Homo sapiens: one gene and its partners. The protein of the gene in region 1 interacts with the protein of each later gene in a pairwise test. Each region holds a gene or a part of one and is shown in the gene's direction. Other genes may lie near its edges.

Region 1 (5,178 bases):
ATGCCGTGCTCACTCGCAAACCTGTATGTTGACACGTGCGGCATCGCTGCAGTCGGATTAACGTGGAAGAAAGAGCGTATTCCTGCGCTAGGTTCCCTCCTCCACTCTGCAAAAGTGACCCGCAAGGAAGGTCCAGCCGTCCGGCCCCAGTGCCCTTTGGTTGAAAGCGGAGCTGCCCCGGCACCCTGTCTGTCTCCCCGGCAGGGCTCCCGTGCGTGCCTGGGTCCCTTCTCATGCTGTGTTTGTCTTGGCCCTTCTCAGCAGGTCCCCACGCATGAGCAGCCGTCCAGCAGGCAGGCTCCGGTGGAGAAGCAATGGAGAATAAAAGCCTGGAGAGCTCCCAGACAGACCTGAAGCTGGTGGCCCACCCCCGCGCCAAGAGCAAGGTGTGGAAGTATTTCGGCTTCGACACCAACGCCGAGGGATGCATCCTGCAGTGGAAGAAAATCTACTGCCGCATCTGCATGGCCCAGATCGCCTACTCCGGAAACACCTCCAACCTGTCCTACCACCTGGAGAAGAACCACCCCGAGGAATTCTGCGAGTTCGTCAAGAGCAACACGGAGCAGATGCGTGAAGCCTTCGCCACCGCCTTCTCCAAGCTGAAGCCCGAGTCGTCCCAGCAGCCCGGGCAGGACGCGCTGGCCGTCAAGGCCGGCCACGGCTACGACAGCAAGAAGCAGCAGGAGCTGACGGCCGCCGTGCTGGGCCTCATCTGCGAGGGGCTGTACCCAGCCTCCATCGTGGACGAGCCCACCTTCAAGGTGCTGCTGAAGACGGCCGACCCCCGGTATGAGCTGCCCAGCCGGAAGTACATCTCTACCAAGGCCATCCCTGAGAAGTACGGGGCCGTCCGGGAGGTGATCCTGAAGGAGCTGGCCGAGGCCACCTGGTGTGGCATCTCCACCGACATGTGGAGGAGTGAGAATCAGAACCGCGCCTACGTCACGCTGGCCGCCCACTTCCTGGGCCTGGGCGCCCCCAACTGCCTGTCCATGGGCTCCCGCTGCCTGAAGACCTTCGAGGTGCCCGAAGAGAACACGGCGGAGACCATCACGCGAGTGCTCTATGAGGTCTTCATCGAGTGGGGCATCAGCGCCAAGGTCTTCGGGGCCACCACCAACTATGGCAAGGACATCGTGAAGGCGTGCTCCCTGCTGGACGTCGCAGTGCACATGCCCTGCCTGGGCCACACCTTCAATGCCGGCATCCAGCAGGCCTTCCAGCTCCCGAAGCTGGGGGCGCTGCTGTCGCGCTGCCGCAAACTGGTGGAGTACTTCCAGCAGTCTGCCGTGGCCATGTACATGCTCTATGAGAAGCAGAAGCAGCAGAACGTGGCCCACTGCATGCTGGTGAGCAACCGCGTCTCCTGGTGGGGGAGCACGCTGGCCATGCTGCAGCGCCTCAAGGAGCAGCAGTTCGTCATCGCCGGGGTCTTGGTGGAGGACAGCAACAACCACCACCTCATGCTGGAGGCCAGCGAGTGGGCCACCATCGAGGGGCTGGTGGAGCTCCTGCAGCCCTTCAAGCAGGTGGCCGAGATGCTGTCGGCCTCCAGGTACCCCACCATCAGCATGGTGAAGCCGCTGCTGCACATGCTCCTGAACACCACGCTCAACATCAAGGAGACCGACTCCAAGGAGCTCAGCATGGCCAAGGAGGTCATCGCCAAGGAGCTTTCCAAGACCTACCAGGAGACGCCCGAGATCGACATGTTTCTCAACGTGGCCACCTTCCTGGACCCCCGCTACAAGAGGCTGCCCTTCCTCTCCGCCTTCGAGCGGCAGCAGGTGGAGAATCGCGTGGTGGAAGAGGCCAAGGGCCTGCTGGACAAGGTCAAAGACGGCGGCTACCGGCCGGCTGAGGACAAGATCTTCCCGGTGCCCGAGGAGCCTCCCGTCAAGAAGCTCATGCGGACATCCACGCCGCCGCCCGCCAGCGTCATCAACAACATGCTGGCCGAGATCTTCTGCCAGACAGGCGGCGTGGAGGACCAGGAAGAGTGGCATGCCCAGGTGGTGGAGGAGCTGAGCAACTTCAAGTCCCAGAAGGTGCTTGGCCTCAACGAAGACCCCCTCAAGTGGTGGTCAGACCGCCTGGCCCTCTTCCCCCTGCTGCCCAAGGTGCTGCAGAAGTACTGGTGCGTGACGGCCACGCGCGTCGCCCCTGAGCGTCTCTTCGGATCCGCCGCCAACGTGGTCAGCGCCAAGAGGAACCGGCTGGCTCCCGCGCACGTGGACGAGCAGGTGTTTCTGTATGAGAACGCCCGGAGTGGGGCAGAGGCGGAACCCGAGGACCAGGACGAGGGGGAGTGGGGCCTGGACCAGGAGCAGGTGTTCTCCTTGGGGGATGGCGTCAGCGGCGGTTTCTTTGGCATTAGGGACAGCAGCTTCCTGTAGCGAGGAAGCGTGTTGTCTTACAAGTCATCCCCGCAGCAGCCCATTGGATGCTTTGCTGTAAATACTTACCCGGTCAGCTTGGTTTTGAACCTCAGAGACCATCCACTGTCTTTGACACCTAGAAGGTGGAAAAAGGAAAGAGATTTGAGAAGTGAGAGAGGGTCGGGGGCGGTGGCTCCTGTCTATAATCGCAGCACTTTGGGAGGCCGAGGTGGGCAGATCAGCTGAGGTCAGGAGATCGAGACCAGCCTGGCCAACATGGCGAAACCCCGTCTCTACTAAAAATACAAAAATTAGCCAGGACTGATGGCATGTGCCTGTAATCCCAGCTTCTGGAGGCTGAGGCCAGAGAATCGCTTGAACCTGGGAGGTGGAGGTTGCAGTAAGCTGAGATCGCTGCACTCCAGCCTGGGCGACAAGAGCGAGACTCTCTCAAAAAGAAAAAAGAAGACACAAGAGAGGTGGCTTTGAGTGGGTTTCCTTTCCTCCCCTATTCCCGGGGCCCGGACGACTTCTGCTTGGGAACTGCCAACGCTTCTGCTTGGGAATTGCGTGCAGCAGAGCCTAGAGGAGCTGTTCCTTCCTTCACAGATACTTAAGACCTCCACCATGTCTGATTCGAGTTCTCCCTGGGAGGGTTTAGAAGAAACGCAGGAACATTCTGGGTGGCGTCGAAGGAGCCTTTCCCGATCATCATGTGTGACTTCTGCGAGGTCCAGATCACTGAATTCATGTTTACATTCTCGTGCAAGCAGGGACCTCTTGCTTCTGAGAAATGGGGAAGAGACCTTTTAGCCAAAATGCCCTTCTTAAAAAGAGAGACCTTTTTTTTTAATGTTCGGTTAAAAATGTGACAGATGAGTACAAAAATGCAGACACTTAACAAAAAGCAAACAGAAAAAAAAGTGTGGAATGTGTTGTATTTTCGACAGGTTGCTGCCAGAGAGCCTGCTTCCTGCTGCCTGCCGAAATTTCACTTTGCGGAGTTGGTCCTTAAAACTGGGCGGTGGCCGGGCGTGGTGGCTCACGCTGAGGTCAGGAGTTCGAGACCAGCCTGGCCAACCAACATGGTGAAACCTCGTGTCTACTAAAAATACAAGAAACTAGCCAGATGCGGTGGCACCCGCCTGTAATCCCAGCTACTCGGGAGGCTGAGGCGGAAGATTCGCTTGAGCCCAGGAGGTGGAGGTTGCAGTGAGCCAAGACTACGCCACTGCACTCCAGCCTGGAGGCCAGAGTGAGACTCCGTCTCAAAACAAAACAAAAGTGGGTGGCTCACGGGTCCGGAGGTTATGTCTTCGGTGTCTCAGCCCTAAAAGTCCAGTTCCCCCGTGCGGCCAGCTTTTCCACATAAGGTGTTTTTGATTTGATTACCGGAAAGGACTCTTGATTCTTCTCTTTTAAACTGAATACCATAGGGGAAATGAATTTTAAAATATTGCCCCCGGAGGGGTTTTCCGTGGCTGGATTCCTGCGAGTTGCTTTCAGTCATTCAGGGAAACAGAAAGACGTTTTCCAACATGTAGAACTGCTTTTTAACTGGAGGAAAAATACTTCAGGAGGCTTAGCATATTGCTTGGATTCTACGTGCAGCGGGTTCTCTGCCTCCGTGAAGACAAGCTGGGCTGGGGAGAACGGTGTCTAGGAGGGATGACCCCACTCAGCTCCAGGCAGTGTTCTGCCGAGACCCCAAGAACTCGGGGTGTCAGAGGGCAAAGGAACTACCTGCCTTTCACGGCTGCTGACTTCTCAGGGCTGCAAGCAGCACAGAATGTTATCCTTACGTCCTGAGCCGGTTTAAGTCTGTGGAAAAGGAAGCACGGGAGAAATCCACGTAACCTTTGCTTTCTTTTTAAGGGAAGCGGTTCCGCCGTGAACTTGGAACCCTCAGCTCCGGGTGTTCTCGGCAGAAGGGCAGCTGGAAGGGACACAGTGGGGCAGGCTTTGGGGTTGCTCCCTGTTCTGCCCCGAGGCCGGGGACGCAGGGCAGCCCACGCCTCCGTGGGCTCCATTCTGTAGCATTGCCAGCGTTCTCTTCACGTCTCTAACAATCCTTCGCTTTTCCTCACTCACGTGGAAATGTGAACTGTCCCGGCTCTGTCTTCATTTTTATTTTTAAGCCATCGTTCCCCTCCTGAACGGTTGCCCCTTATTTAATGCTGTAAAGTTGGACTGTTGTTCAATAAACCAGAGCAATGCATTAGCTCCTCATTCATTTGTCTGCCGCGTGTCCGTCTGGACTGCAGTTTGTCTGAACCCCTTGATCCTGGGAGTGGAGGGAGGTTTATCATTATTATTATTTTTATTTTTGTTGTGGTCCTTGTTGAAAGCAACTTTTTCCAGGGCACCCACGGTCAGTTCTGTGCTCCTCTTTCTTGTCTGTAAATCCTCAAGTTATGATGTACTTTCGGGTGTTTTGGCATCAAAATTTCTGAGTGAATAAAGCCGGCAGCTGGTGAAAGTGTTCCCCGGGAGCAGAGATTTTTGCCGGTTCCTTCACTTAGTGGATAGTTGTATAAACGGAGGCCCCATGGACGAGGCAGCCTGGATGGATCCGGATGGCATCAGCGCCTTCCCTCTCCCCCCAGCCTCCTTATCACCCCTCTCTTCCTGTCTTCCTCACCTCCTCTCACATGGTCTCTTCCTTCCCTCCTCCTTCCGTCCAACCCTCCCTCTCTTCTTCAGCCAACAAATCCTTCCTTTCTTCCTTCTTTCCTTCCTTCCTTCCCTCCCATCCTTGTCTCTTCTTCTCTCCCTTCCTTCCCTCCCTTCCCTTCTT
Region 2 (5,797 bases), on another chromosome or scaffold:
AGAAAGGTCACTGAATGCCATTCCAAAGAAAATTTAACTTGGTTCTGGTGGGAAAGTTCTTCCAAGTACAGTCAACACTAGAAGCATTTTAAAGGGAATTGGTTGGAGGTAATGGGAGTGGGGAGGTGGGAACCAGTTTGATGCACAGTTTGGTCAACATATTTTGTGTAGTTCTGGCACAATATGGAAAATCAACTTACTCTTTCAGAGTTTGAGAGAACCCATTATCCAGATGTGTTTGCCCGAGAAAGACTAGCAGCCAAAATAGATCTACCTGAAGCAAGAATACAGGTACCGAGAGACTGTGCAGTTTCACACTTTGTGATTCATACCATTTGTCTTTCCTAGAGACAGAGGTGCTTGTACAGAGTACTATTTATTTATAGGACTAATATAATAAAAAGGTTCAGTCTGCTAAATGCTCTGCTGCCATGGGCGTGGGGAGGGCAGCAGTGGAGGTGCCAAGGTGGGGCTGGGCTCGACGTAGACACAGTGCTAACCTGTCCCACCTGATTTCCAGGTATGGTTTTCTAATCGAAGGGCCAAATGGAGAAGAGAAGAAAAACTGAGGAATCAGAGAAGACAGGCCAGCAACACACCTAGTCATATTCCTATCAGCAGTAGTTTCAGCACCAGTGTCTACCAACCAATTCCACAACCCACCACACCGGGTAATTTGAAATACTAATACTACGAATCAATGTCTTTAAACCTGTTTGCTCCGGGCTCTGACTCTCACTCTGACTACTGTCATTTCTCTTGCCCTCAGTTTCCTCCTTCACATCTGGCTCCATGTTGGGCCGAACAGACACAGCCCTCACAAACACCTACAGCGCTCTGCCGCCTATGCCCAGCTTCACCATGGCAAATAACCTGCCTATGCAAGTAAGTGCGGCTGGTGGTGGCCTGCATAACCCAGGCCCCAGAGAAGTGAGGAGTGGCTCAGGGCCTGCGGACCTCATTGGCTGTGTCTGCACCCTTGAGAGCTTTTCGCACTACAGTGATTGGCTTGACCAGTCAAGTCGGAGACAGTCAATCCCATCACTTTTAAGTGATTGACTCATTAATTCATGCCCTAAAAAAATGAGTAATAAAAATCTGTCCAGTTTTGTCAGGTTGATCTGCCTTTTATTATACTGTTACCTTGATAATGTTGGGTGGTGGTGGGGCATGTTTTGGGTACCAGGGAGCCTTGCACCAGAAAGTGGAAATAATGCTGGCACATTATCAGATAGCAGATTAGTAGTTTAAAATTTGGGTTTATATTAATGTGTTTGTATGCTAAATATAGAATCTGTGCACGCATTTGGGGCATTACTTTGGGTATATGTGATAAACTAGTGAGAAAGAAAAAAGGATCAGAAATGGGATTCATATTTACATGGTGAGATATACATAATATAATGAGAATGCTAGTTTTCTGTCTGTATCTACAATAAGAAAAGGCATAGCAGGTATTTGCTGGAAATTTAGTGTGTCTTTGCTGTGAATGGTGTGACGAGTTTGTGGCCCTCCTAGCTGCCTGGGAAGCTTGATGCTATTCACTTGGTATGACAGCCTGCCTCTCCTCTTAGTTCTGTCCCAAATATCTATTAGCCCCTACATTTAGAGGTCCTGCACTAGGTTCACCCTTTATGATGTAAGTTGGATAAGGCAGATGGTTTGTACTAGACCTTTGTTGCTGGATGGATTCTTGATAGGAAAAATGTCTGTCTTCTGGTAGGCCTTTCCCAGTGGTTTTCCTAGAACTCCTGTTTGTGCAACAATTAGAGATATTAGATGGTACGATATTGGCCAGCATGAGCCTCTGCTGGAAACAGTTCTGGGGCTACACTGATTGTTTATTCTCCATTGAACATTTTTTGCTGGATTTCAAATCCAAATAACAGCAAAATAAATGTTTCACAGTCTTCAGACTAATATAGGAGCAGCTAGATAAGCAACTTCAGAGGAATTATTCACATGTTTATTTTTATTGCATCTGGATATTGTTGGCCATAGTGCAATTGATGTAAATTAAGGGATTAACAGCCCATTAGTTGGTGTTGCTATAACTGCGTTGGAATTTTCCAGAAGTCAGGTTGCCTAGAGGAACTCATTGCAGGAATTAGAAACAAATGCAAGCTGAAATTCTGGCAGGCCCTCAAGGCCTGTTTGCCTCTTTGAACTTGATGTTAGCATTCATCATCTGACTTTAATAAGGCCACAGAGTGTCTCGTTCAGTTTCATGTATTATAACAACATCCAGGTTTCTGTGAAGATAGCAAAATGTGTATGTGAGAAAATAATAAGACGAACAAGTAGATGCTGCAATTATATTAGGGCTGTTTCCACATACAGAGCGGTATGGGGAATCAATCTATTTCAAACACTGACTTTTAAAAATTACATAATTTGTATAATTCAAAAAGTACATGCATTCATTAAGCATAAAGAAAATCAAAATGATCAATAACTTTACTCTTCAGAGAAAACTACTCTTTGAATTTTGGAGTGGGTGAGCCCGATTGTCTATCCATTTATTCATTCTCTTGACCAAAATCATCATTTTACAAATGGTGGGTGTCTTCCTCTGGACCTTCTCTGATATGCTTCCCTCTCTGAGCATATGGATTTTGGAAATTAAACATTTCTCCAGTTTGCAGAGAAGAGAAATGATAGTATACTGTACTATCATCTGACCTGCTTGTTCCCGACACACTTCTTTTAATTCATCCCAAGTTTGCTGCCATGGCATAGTACCATGAGAGCTCATGAGGCGTTTTGTTAGGAGAAAGGTTTACCTCCTCAGTGCTGCCATTCCGAACAGTTCGAGGGTAGCAACAGTTTTCTAGTTATAAGTCAGTCTGGGCTTTTGGGTCTGTTAGGAAGTCATGGTTAATTCTCAGGATGGAGGTCGTTATATTTACTAACACTTCTGATCACTTTAACTTGGGGTCATTACAGATCTGCTTCTTCAAAGAATCTTTAATCCCATCAGTGAAAGGTTCCCAAGGTCCCTGAACCATACTTTACTGAGAGCTCCTCCCACTGCTCTCTGTCCCAAAGCTTGAGATATGGGCTCTGGGGGTCATAGGGTTCCCAAATAAATCCAGATTTGCAGGGAGAGGGGATGTGTTTTGATGAAGGTCCTCATGCTATAGGTTCTTCAAAGATGCTAGCAGAGGTTAGAGACAAAAATCCTATTAATTTATGGATAGTGGCAACCATCTAGCTGGACAGTTGTCAGAACCTAAAGTGCTTTAGAGGCTTGATACATAGGCAGCTTTCTTCTAGCTGTGGCCAGTGGAAGGACTAGCTCGAGGCCCAATCTTAGATTTATCATATGGAATTCCAGTACTTCACGTGAAGGCATCTTTAATGATCAGACTTGTTGGCAGAGTTCCTCGGGAGGAGGGAGCCTGGGGCTGTGGCTGTGTGATGTGTTCCTCAGTAACCACAGGTTTGCCTCTCTCCTCACAGCCCCCAGTCCCCAGCCAGACCTCCTCATACTCCTGCATGCTGCCCACCAGCCCTTCGGTGAATGGGCGGAGTTATGATACCTACACCCCCCCACATATGCAGACACACATGAACAGTCAGCCAATGGGCACCTCGGGCACCACTTCAACAGGTGAGCCACTGCTTTCTGCAGGCTGCACAGAGGCGATCTCTCTTCACTAGAAGTTTACCCAAACAGAATCTCCTGGTCTTATGGGAGGGCGTGTTTAACTCCTTGCTTTCCTTGTCCCTGGGGGATGGGGATTGAAAAGGGAAATTCAGTTAAGCTAATTAGTAACTTTACACCATATAGACAAAAACTAAAATTGTTTTTCCTGAATTTGGTCACAAAAGTTGTGTATGAAGACAAGGCCTGAGACTGCAAGTTTTCTGAGGACAGATTATTAGACGAAGCTCAGTAGGGGGCCCACTGAGCTGTAGGTGCGTGCTTGTTGAAATGCTTCTTGCCCTCATAGCTCCTCTAGACCTTTTGCTGGAAATAAAAAGTGACACATTGGTTTTCCAGAGACAGCTTTATTGTAAAAGTTCCAAACATGCAAACAAACAGAGGATTTTTTTTTTCTTTTCCTTTGGATTGGGGTGGGGGGTACTTGGGATCCAATAGGTATATATACATATATTGTCTAGTTTCTGAAGGTGCTACTTTTATTTGTAACAATTGAAGTGATTTTAATACAGTAAAAAATGTTAGAAAGTATTAGTTTTTTTTTTTTTTTTTTTTTTTGTAAACCTATAAATTTGTATTCCATGTCTGTTTCTCAAAGGGAATATCTACATGGCTATTTCTTTCATCCACTTCTAGGACTCATTTCCCCTGGTGTGTCAGTTCCAGTTCAAGTTCCCGGAAGTGAACCTGATATGTCTCAATACTGGCCAAGATTACAGTAAAAAAAAAAAAAAAAAAAAAAAGGAAAGGAAATATTGTGTTAATTCAGTCAGTGACTATGGGGACACAACAGTTGAGCTTTCAGGAAAGAAAGAAAAATGGCTGTTAGAGCCGCTTCAGTTCTACAATTGTGTCCTGTATTGTACCACTGGGGAAGGAATGGACTTGAAACAAGGACCTTTGTATACAGAAGGCACGATATCAGTTGGAACAAATCTTCATTTTGGTATCCAAACTTTTATTCATTTTGGTGTATTATTTGTAAATGGGCATTTGTATGTTATAATGAAAAAAAGAACAATGTAGACTGGATGGATGTTTGATCTGTGTTGGTCATGAAGTTGTTTTTTTTTTTTTTAAAAAGAAAACCATGATCAACAAGCTTTGCCACGAATTTAAGAGTTTTATCAAGATATATCGAATACTTCTACCCATCTGTTCATAGTTTATGGACTGATGTTCCAAGTTTGTATCATTCCTTTGCATATAATTAAACCTGGAACAACATGCACTAGATTTATGTCAGAAATATCTGTTGGTTTTCCAAAGGTTGTTAACAGATGAAGTTTATGTGCAAAAAAGGGTAAGATATAAATTCAAGGAAGAAAAAAAGTTGATAGCTAAAAGGTAGAGTGTGTCTTCGATATAATCCAATTTGTTTTATGTCAAAATGTAAGTATTTGTCTTCCCTAGAAATCCTCAGAATGATTTCTATAATAAAGTTAATTTCATTTATATTTGACAAGAATATAGATGTTTTATACACATTTTCATGCAATCATACGTTTCTTTTTTGGCCAGCAAAAGTTAATTGTTCTTAGATATAGTTGTATTACTGTTCACGGTCCAATCATTTTGTGCATCTAGAGTTCATTCCTAATCAATTAAAAGTGCTTGCAAGAGTTTTAAACTTAAGTGTTTTGAAGTTGTTCACAACTACATATCAAAATTAACCATTGTTGATTGTAAAAAACCATGCCAAAGCCTTTGTATTTCCTTTATTATACAGTTTTCTTTTTAACCTTATAGTGTGGTGTTACAAATTTTATTTCCATGTTAGATCAACATTCTAAACCAATGGTTACTTTCACACACACTCTGTTTTACATCCTGATGATCCTTAAAAAATAATCCTTATAGATACCATAAATCAAAAACGTGTTAGAAAAAAATTCCACTTACAGCAGGGTGTAGATCTGTGCCCATTTATACCCACAACATATATACAAAATGGTAACATTTCCCAGTTAGCCATTTAATTCTAAAGCTCAAAGTCTAGAAATAATTTAAAAATGCAACAAGCGATTAGCTAGGAATTGTTTTTTGAATTAGGACTGGCATTTTCAATCTGGGCAGATTTCCATTGTCAGCCTATTTCAACAATGATTTCACTGAAGTATATTCAAAAGT
Region 3 (7,608 bases), on another chromosome or scaffold:
GTGTGGTGGTGCGAGCCTGTGGTCCCAACTACTTGGGATGCTAAGGTGGGAAGATAACCTGAGCCCAGGTGGTTGAGGCTGTAGTGAGCTGTCATTGCACGACTGCATTCCAGCCTGGGCGATAGAGCGAGACCCTGTCTCAAAAACAAACAAAAACCCCCAAACCTCTCTACTTGCCCCGTTCTTCCACTCCCTAGCATCCTCTATTCTACTTTCTGTCTCTATGAATTTGTTCATTCTAGGTACCTAATATACATGGAATCGTACAATATTTGCCATTTTGTGTCTGGCTTATTTCACTTAGCATAATGTTTTCAAGGTTCATCCAGAATTCAGAATTTCATTCTTTTCTAAGGCTGAATATTCTGTGGAGTATATATACCACCTTTTGTTTACTCATTCATCTGTTGAAGGTTGCTTGGGTTGTTTCTACCTTCTGGCTATCGTGAATAATGCTGCTATGAACACTGGCATACAATTACCTGTTTGAGTCCCTTCTTTATTTTTTATTATTACTTTTTTTGTAGAGACAAGGTCTCGCTATGGTGACCAGGCTGGTCTCGAGTTCCTGGCCTCAAGCAGTCCTCTACCTCAGCCTCCCAAAGGGCTGGGATTACAGGCATGAGACACTGTGTCTGGCCAAGTCCCTTCTTTCAAATCTTTCGGGCATATATTTAGAAGTGGAATTGTAAATCATACGGTAATTCAATGTTTAACTTTTTGAGGAACCACCAAACTGTTTTCTACAGTGGATATACCATTTTACATTCCCACTAGCTCTACATAAGGGTTCCAAATTCTTCACATCCTGGCAAACACTTGTTATTTTCCATTTTTTGGATAATATCCATCCTAATGGGTGTGAAATGGTATCTCGTGGTTTTGGTTTGCATTTCTCTAATGGTTAGTGATGTTGGGCATGTTTTCATGTGCTTATTTGCCATTTGTATATCTTCTTTGGATTAATGTCTATTGAAGTCCTTTGCCCATTTTTGAATTGGGTTTTGTTGTTGAGATAGCTAACCTGATTTTTGACAAAGGTGCAAAAGCAATTCAATGGAGGAAGCATAGCTTTCCAACAAATGGTGCTGGAACAACTGGACACCATAGGCAAAAAAGCAAAAAAGAACCTTGATCTAAATTTCATACCTTTATATAAAAATTACATCAAAATAAATCATGGGCATAAAACTCTAACACTTTTATAAAAATGGGGGGAAATCTTTGGGACCCAGGGCTAGGCAAAGAGTTCTTTCTTAGACTTGAAATCAAAAGCACAATCCATTAAAGAAGGAATTGATAAATTGGACCTTGTCAAAATCAAAGCCTTTTGTTCTGTGAAAGCCCAAGTGAAGAGGATTAAAAGATGAACTACAGATTCGGAGAAAGTATTTGCAAACTACGTATCCAACAACGGACTAGTATATAGAATATATAAAGAATTCTCAAAACTCGACAGTTAGAAATTGGGCAAAAGACATGAACAGACACTTCACCAAAGAAAATATACAGATGACAAATAAGCACATGAAAAAGATGTTCAATATCATTATCCGTCACGTACATTAGAACCACAATGATATCACTACACACCTATTAAAATGACTAAAATAAAAATAGTGACATCAAATGCTGGCAAGGATGTGAAGAAACTGTGTCACTTAAACATTTCTGGTAAGAATGTAAAGTGGAACAGTCACTCTGGAAAACAGGTTTGGCAATTTCTTCTAAAACTAGATATGCAGTTACCATACTACACAGCAATTGCACTCTTGGGCATTTATTCCATAGGAATGAAAACTTATGTTCACACAAAAACCTATACATGAATGTTTATAGCAGCTGAATCATAATTGCTCCTAACTGGAAACAACCCAGATGTCTTTCAGTGGGTAAATGGTTAAACAAACTGGTACATTCATACTAGAACTACTCAGCAATAAAAAGGAATGGATTATTGATACACACAACAACTTGGATGAATCTCCAAGGAATTGTTCTGAGTAAAAAAAAAAAAAAATCCATCCTAAAAAGTGTACATGCTGAGTTATTTCATTTATATAACATTTTTGAAATGACAAAATTTTAGAAATGGAGGGCAGACTGGTGGTTGTAAAGGGTTAGGGACTAGGGCAGGAGGAGGGAGGGAAGTGTACATAGTCATAAAATCACAACAGAGAGATCCTTGTGATAGTATTTGGTATCTTTTTTTTTTTTTGAGACAGAGTCTCACTCTTGTCGCCCAGGCTGGAGTGTAATGGCGCGATCTCAGCTCACTGCAACCTCCACTTCCTGAGTTCAAGCGATTCTCATGCCTCAGCCTCCCAAGTAGCTGGGATTACAGGCAAGCACCACTATGCCTGGCTAATTTTTGTTATTTTTAGTAGATATAGGATTTTGCCATGTTGACCAGGCTGGTCTTGAACTCCTGGCCTCAAGTGATCTGCCTGCCTCAGCATCCCAAAATGCTGGGATTATAGGCGTGCATGAGTCACCATGCCCGGCTAGTATTTGATATCTTGATGGTCATGGATACACAAACTGACACGTGATAAATCAAAAGAAAAGTACAGTTAAATTGGAGAAATCTAAGAGGAGTAGGTTGTATCGATGTCAATATCCTGGTTGTAATATTATACTAAAGTTCTGCAAAATATCATTGTGGAGAACTGGAAAAGTATACAGGGGATCTCTATTATTTTTTACAACTGCATGTGATTCTATAAAAATCTCAATATAATTTCAAATTAAAAAGCAAAAAACAAAGGGCAGTGTCCTACAGATACTTCTGGCTAGAGAAACAAAGTGGGCTGGAATTAACAAACATCTGTATACTGTACATGAGGAAATACTGGTGACCCAGATTGGATTCGCCAGCTTCTTGGATGATAAAATGTCAAGCTTATAAACTAAAGAAAATTCTCAAAAGAATTTTGGGCAGAAAAAAAAAATGGCATGAGAGCCTTAGTGGTGACCGTGGAAAAGTAACAAACCTAGAGGAAAATCATCCCTGCTTTTTAAAAAATGGGTTACTGCAAAAATGATATCCTCGTCAAAAATAATCCTTGGATTGCTGGAGCAAATGTTACCCCTTTCCCAAACTTTCTAATACATACATTCTAGAATGTCGGTTCTGAAATTCTCTTGCATCCTTAATTTTCTCACAGCATGTTCTTATTTTAATGAAAACCTGGCTTTCTGCTAGGATCCATGCTTTCCAGAAGCCCTCTAAGTAGACCTGGCTATTCCTTTTCCTATGCCACATAGTCCCATCGTGGTCATGAGGCAAACGAATGATACTCCCCACTACACACACCATTTAAAAAAAACCCTAATCCTTTGAGGCTCACATCTACCTGAATCCTACTCTTTATCCTGTCTCTCTTTGCTGCCACCTGTATATTATACGTCTCCCACCCTCAGCTCACCAGGCAGCAATTGGAGACCAACGGGAAAGATCCATTTTTCCTTTATCAGGAAACTTCGGGTTTATACCTGCAGTGCTGATGGCAGTCTAGTGCCGTATCTTATGTATGCATGTCTATGGGATGGGTATTCATTCACCTTATGAGGAAAAAAAATAGAAAAACAACTGCCAAGGTTTTCAAATTATGAAGTCCTGGATAAATATTTGGGCAGGAGCTGTGGCTCACGCCTGTAATCCCGGCACTTTAGGAGGCCAAGGTGGGCGGATCACCTGAGGTCAGGAGTTCAAGACCAGCCTGGTCAACATGGTGAAACCCCGTCTCCACTAAAAATAAAAAAATTAGCCAGGTGTGGTGGCGGGTGCCTGTAATCCCAGCTACTCAGGAGGCTGAGGCAGGAGAATCGCTTGAACCTGGGAAATGGAGGTTGCAATGAGCTGAGATCGCACCACTGCACTCCAGCCTGGGCGACACAGCGAGACTCTATCATAGATAGATAGATAGATTAGATAGATAGATAGATAGAAAGAAATCTCCCTTGAATCATCTTTCCTAGAAATTTGCCTCCCACCCCCATATTGCCCTGAAATATAGTAGTGTCTTACATTGGAAGGTGCCATTTAAAAAAAAAAAAACAAGTATTTTCCTTTATGAAAATAAACGATGTTCATTATTTTAAAAATTCTCTAAAGTGTAAAAATAAAAACACAGCACTGCTATTCCACCACCCAAATATAACCACTTTTAATATTTCTATTTCGGTCTTGTTTTAGTGCCTAGTTTGAAATAAACACAACTTTATTTATTTAGCATTGCTATATTGCGTCCTGCTTCCTTCACTCACCATCATAACATGGCCTTTCCCCACACTGTTTTACATTTTTCAAATATATCTGAATGGCTACTTTAAATTTCATGGTGAGATCGTTCGCTTTTTAACTCCCCAACAGGAGAGCGGAATGGGCATCTCTGTGCAGAACGTTTGGTCCACAAAACTTTTTTAAAAATATACTCCAGAAGATTTAAAATCTCCAGCGCACTCGAGATCGTGCTCGCTTGGATCCAGCCCAGCGCGCCATCAGCGCCTCTGTCACTTTCAGAACTCTTGGCGCCCCCTCGGCCCCCGTAGAGTAGCGTTGAAAACGCGCAAGTGACGTCGCTTGTTTCCCTGGTGACGGTTGCCAGGGCAGCGCGTGTCGGCGTCCGGAGGAGGTGACCTAGCCGCCGCGGTCCTAGAAGGGAGAAGTGGAGAGAGACCGCTGTAAGTGCCGGGGAGAGCGGAAGGGCCCGGGCCGGAGCTGGGAAAGCCCGCAGCTGCCGGGGGCGCGGAACCGAGCCCGAGCGCAACCCCAGCCCGAGCGCGCTGCCACTGGCCGGGCGCTCACCGCGTGCTGGGCGCCCAGCGAGGACTCTTCCCCTTCGTCCTTTGAATCTTCACACACAGCCCTCTTCTAACCCAGGCAGACGCTTATTTTCCATGCAGTACATGGGTTAATGAGGCGCAGAGGGTGGGTCGCCTGCCCCAAAGTCATAGCGTAGATGGCACAGTCAGAACTCGAACTCAGGTCCGCCTGACAAGCGCTGTTTGCTGGGCCTCTGCCACTGGGCCCTCTCGCACCGCACTGAAAGATGCGACCCGACGGCGTGCACTTCCGCATCTCCCAGTTCCCCTTCCAGGCCCAGCCCCCACAGGACTGGGGACTCGCAAGAGGGAGTTCCCCTCCAAGCCCGGAGTCCAGCCCTGAGAACCAGAGCATCACCCCGCTCCCATCCCAAACCCATCCCTACGAAGATGCTAGCAGTGCACAGAGCGCCAAACTAGGCATCCGTGGGCGGCCTCCCCACACCTCCAGGCCCCTAGACTGTTGTTGAGAATACTCGAAAAGAACACAGTAAAAGAAAAGAAGAAAGAGAAGGAGAGGGGAAGAGAAAAACAATGAAAAAAGTGGCAGGCCGATGGGGCAAGGGGTCTCAATCCTTCCTCACTGGTCCCTGTCACCTATGGTCCCATATCCTGTGGGATCTTGCTTCCTCATAGGACTCCAGAGTGCATGCCACTCTTCCTACTCCCTGGCTCTAAGTCCTACCTGAGCCAAGAGTTCTTTCCATGCAGCTCTAGCCTTTACTTTATTTTTTTTATTATTACTTTTTTTTTTTTTTTTTTTTTTTGACGGAGTCTCGCTCTATCGCCCAGGCTGGAGTGCAGTAGCGCGATCTTGGCTCATTGCAACCTCTGCCTCCCAGGTTCAAGCGATTCTCCTGCCTTGGGCTCGAGTAGCTGGGATTACAGGCGCCCGCCACCATGCCTGGCTAATTTTGGTATTTTTAGTAGAGATGGGGTTTCACCATGTTGGCCAGGCTGGTCTCAAACTCCTGACCTCAGGTGATCCACCCACCTCAGCCTCCCAAAGTTTTGGGATTACACGCATGAGCCACCACGCCCGGCTTAGCCTTTACTTTTAAAAGAAAATAGACTTAAAGCAGATTTTTAGAAGCATTAAACAAAAAACAGTTCCTTTATGTATTCCGTATTCCCATTTCCTCTGTTGTTAACATCTTACACATTGCATTGGTGTGGTACATTTGTTATCATTGATACAACTATACTGGTATGTTATTACTAACTAAAGTCCATAGTTTACATTAGAGTTCATCTGTTGTTGTTGTTGCTGCTGCTGTATTGAGACAGGGTCTCACTTTGTCACCCAGGCTGGAGTGCGGTGGCATGATCATGGCTCACAGTAGCCTCCAACCCCTGGGCTCAAGCAATCCTCCCACCTCAGCCTCCTGAGTAACTGGGAACACAGGCACATGCCACCATGCCCAGCTAATTTTTTTATTTTTTGTAAAGCTATGGTCTTGCTATGTTGCCCAAGCTGGTCTCAAACTCCTGGCCTCAAGTGGTCCTCCCACCTTGGCTTCGTAGAGTGTTGAGATTACAGGTGTGAGTCATCACACCTGGCCAGTGTTCATTGCTTAAGGTTGCACAGGTCTACAAGTTTTGCTAAATGTGTAATGCTGTGTATCCACCAGTAAAGTATACAGAACAGTTTCACCTCCCCAAAAACCCCCTAGGCTTTACTGTTCATTGTTCCTTCCCACCAACCCCTGGAAACCACTGATATTTTTCATTTAGAAGGGATTTACAATCACTGGTATCTTTTACTTCTCTGTAATTTTGCCTTTTTCAGAATATTATACAGTTTGCAATTATACAGCATGTAGCCTTTTCAGACCGGCTTCTTCACTTAACAATACACATTTAGGTTTCTTTCATGTCTTTTCGTGGCGTGATAGCTCATTTCTTTTCATCACTGAATAATATTCACCGGTATGAGTGTACCAGGTTATCTACTCACCTATTGAAGTACATCTTGTTTTTTTCTCATTTTTGGTAATTATGAATAAAGTTATTGAGTCCAGAATTGTGGGTTCTTGGTCTCACTGACTTCAAGAACAAAGCCGCAGACCCTCGCGGTGAGTGTTATTACAGTTCTTAAAGGTGGCGTGTCTGGAGTTTGTTTCTTCCTTCTGATGTCAAGATGTGTTCAGAGTTTCTTCCTTTTGGTGGGTTCATGGTCTCGCTGGCTCAGGAGTGAAGCTGCAGACCTTCGCGGTGAGTGTTACAGCTCTTAGGGTGGTGCGTCTGGAGTTGTTCATTCCTCCTGGTGGGTTCGTGGTCTTGCTGGCTTCAGGAGTGAAGCTGCAGACCTTCACGGTGAGTGTTACAGCTCATAAAAGCAGTGTGGACCCAAAGAGTGAGCAGTAGCAAGATTTAGTGCAAAGAGCAAAAGAACAAAGCTTCAACAGTGTGGAAGGGGACCTCAGCAGGTTGCCACTGCTGCCTGGGGCAGCCTGCTTTTATTCTCTTATCTGGCCCCACCCACATCCTGCTGATTGGTCCATTTTACAGAGAGCCCATTGGTCTGTTTTACAGAGAGCTGATTGGTCCGTTTTGACAGGGTGCTGATTGGTGCATTTACAATTGCTGAGCTAGACACAAAAGTTTTCCACTTCCCCACTAGATCAACTAGATACAGAATGTCAATTGGTGCATTTACAAACCTTGAGCTAGATACAGAGTGCCGATTGGTGTATTCACAATCCCTTAGCTAGACATAAAGATTCTCAAAGTCCCCACCAGATTAGCTAGATACAGAGTGCCGATTGGTGCATTCACAAA

What was found. The genes of interacting proteins can lie anywhere in the genome.
Region 2: the proteins of ZBED1 (region 1) and PAX6 interact in binary tests that used the Homo sapiens proteins (3 or more experiments, as listed by UniProt).
Region 3: the proteins of ZBED1 (region 1) and CCDC13 interact in binary tests that used the Homo sapiens proteins (3 or more experiments, as listed by UniProt).

What each region holds. Positions count from the first base shown.
Region 1 is NC_000023.11:2,485,856-2,491,033, reverse strand, and holds the end of ZBED1 (E3 SUMO-protein ligase ZBED1), read left to right. Parts: intron 1-261; 5' UTR 262-314; coding exon 315-2,399; 3' UTR 2,400-4,599; downstream 4,600-5,178.
Region 2 is NC_000011.10:31,788,526-31,794,322, reverse strand, and holds the end of PAX6 (paired box protein Pax-6), read left to right. Parts: intron 1-208; coding exon 209-291; intron 292-520; coding exon 521-671; intron 672-769; coding exon 770-885; coding exon of another isoform or gene 886-1,059; exon of another isoform or gene 1,060-1,118; intron 1,119-3,462; coding exon 3,463-3,613; intron 3,614-3,998; exon of another isoform or gene 3,999-4,303; coding exon 4,304-4,389; coding exon of another isoform or gene 4,390-4,693; 3' UTR 4,694-5,297; downstream 5,298-5,797. UniProt on the Homo sapiens protein: Transcription factor with important functions in the development of the eye, nose, central nervous system and pancreas. Required for the differentiation of pancreatic islet alpha cells.
Region 3 is NC_000003.12:42,770,254-42,777,861, reverse strand, and holds the start of CCDC13 (coiled-coil domain-containing protein 13), read left to right. Parts: upstream 1-4,608; 5' UTR 4,609-4,686; intron 4,687-6,784; exon of another isoform or gene 6,785-7,250; intron 7,251-7,608. UniProt on the Homo sapiens protein: Required for primary cilia formation and promotes the localization of the ciliopathy protein BBS4 to both centriolar satellites and cilia.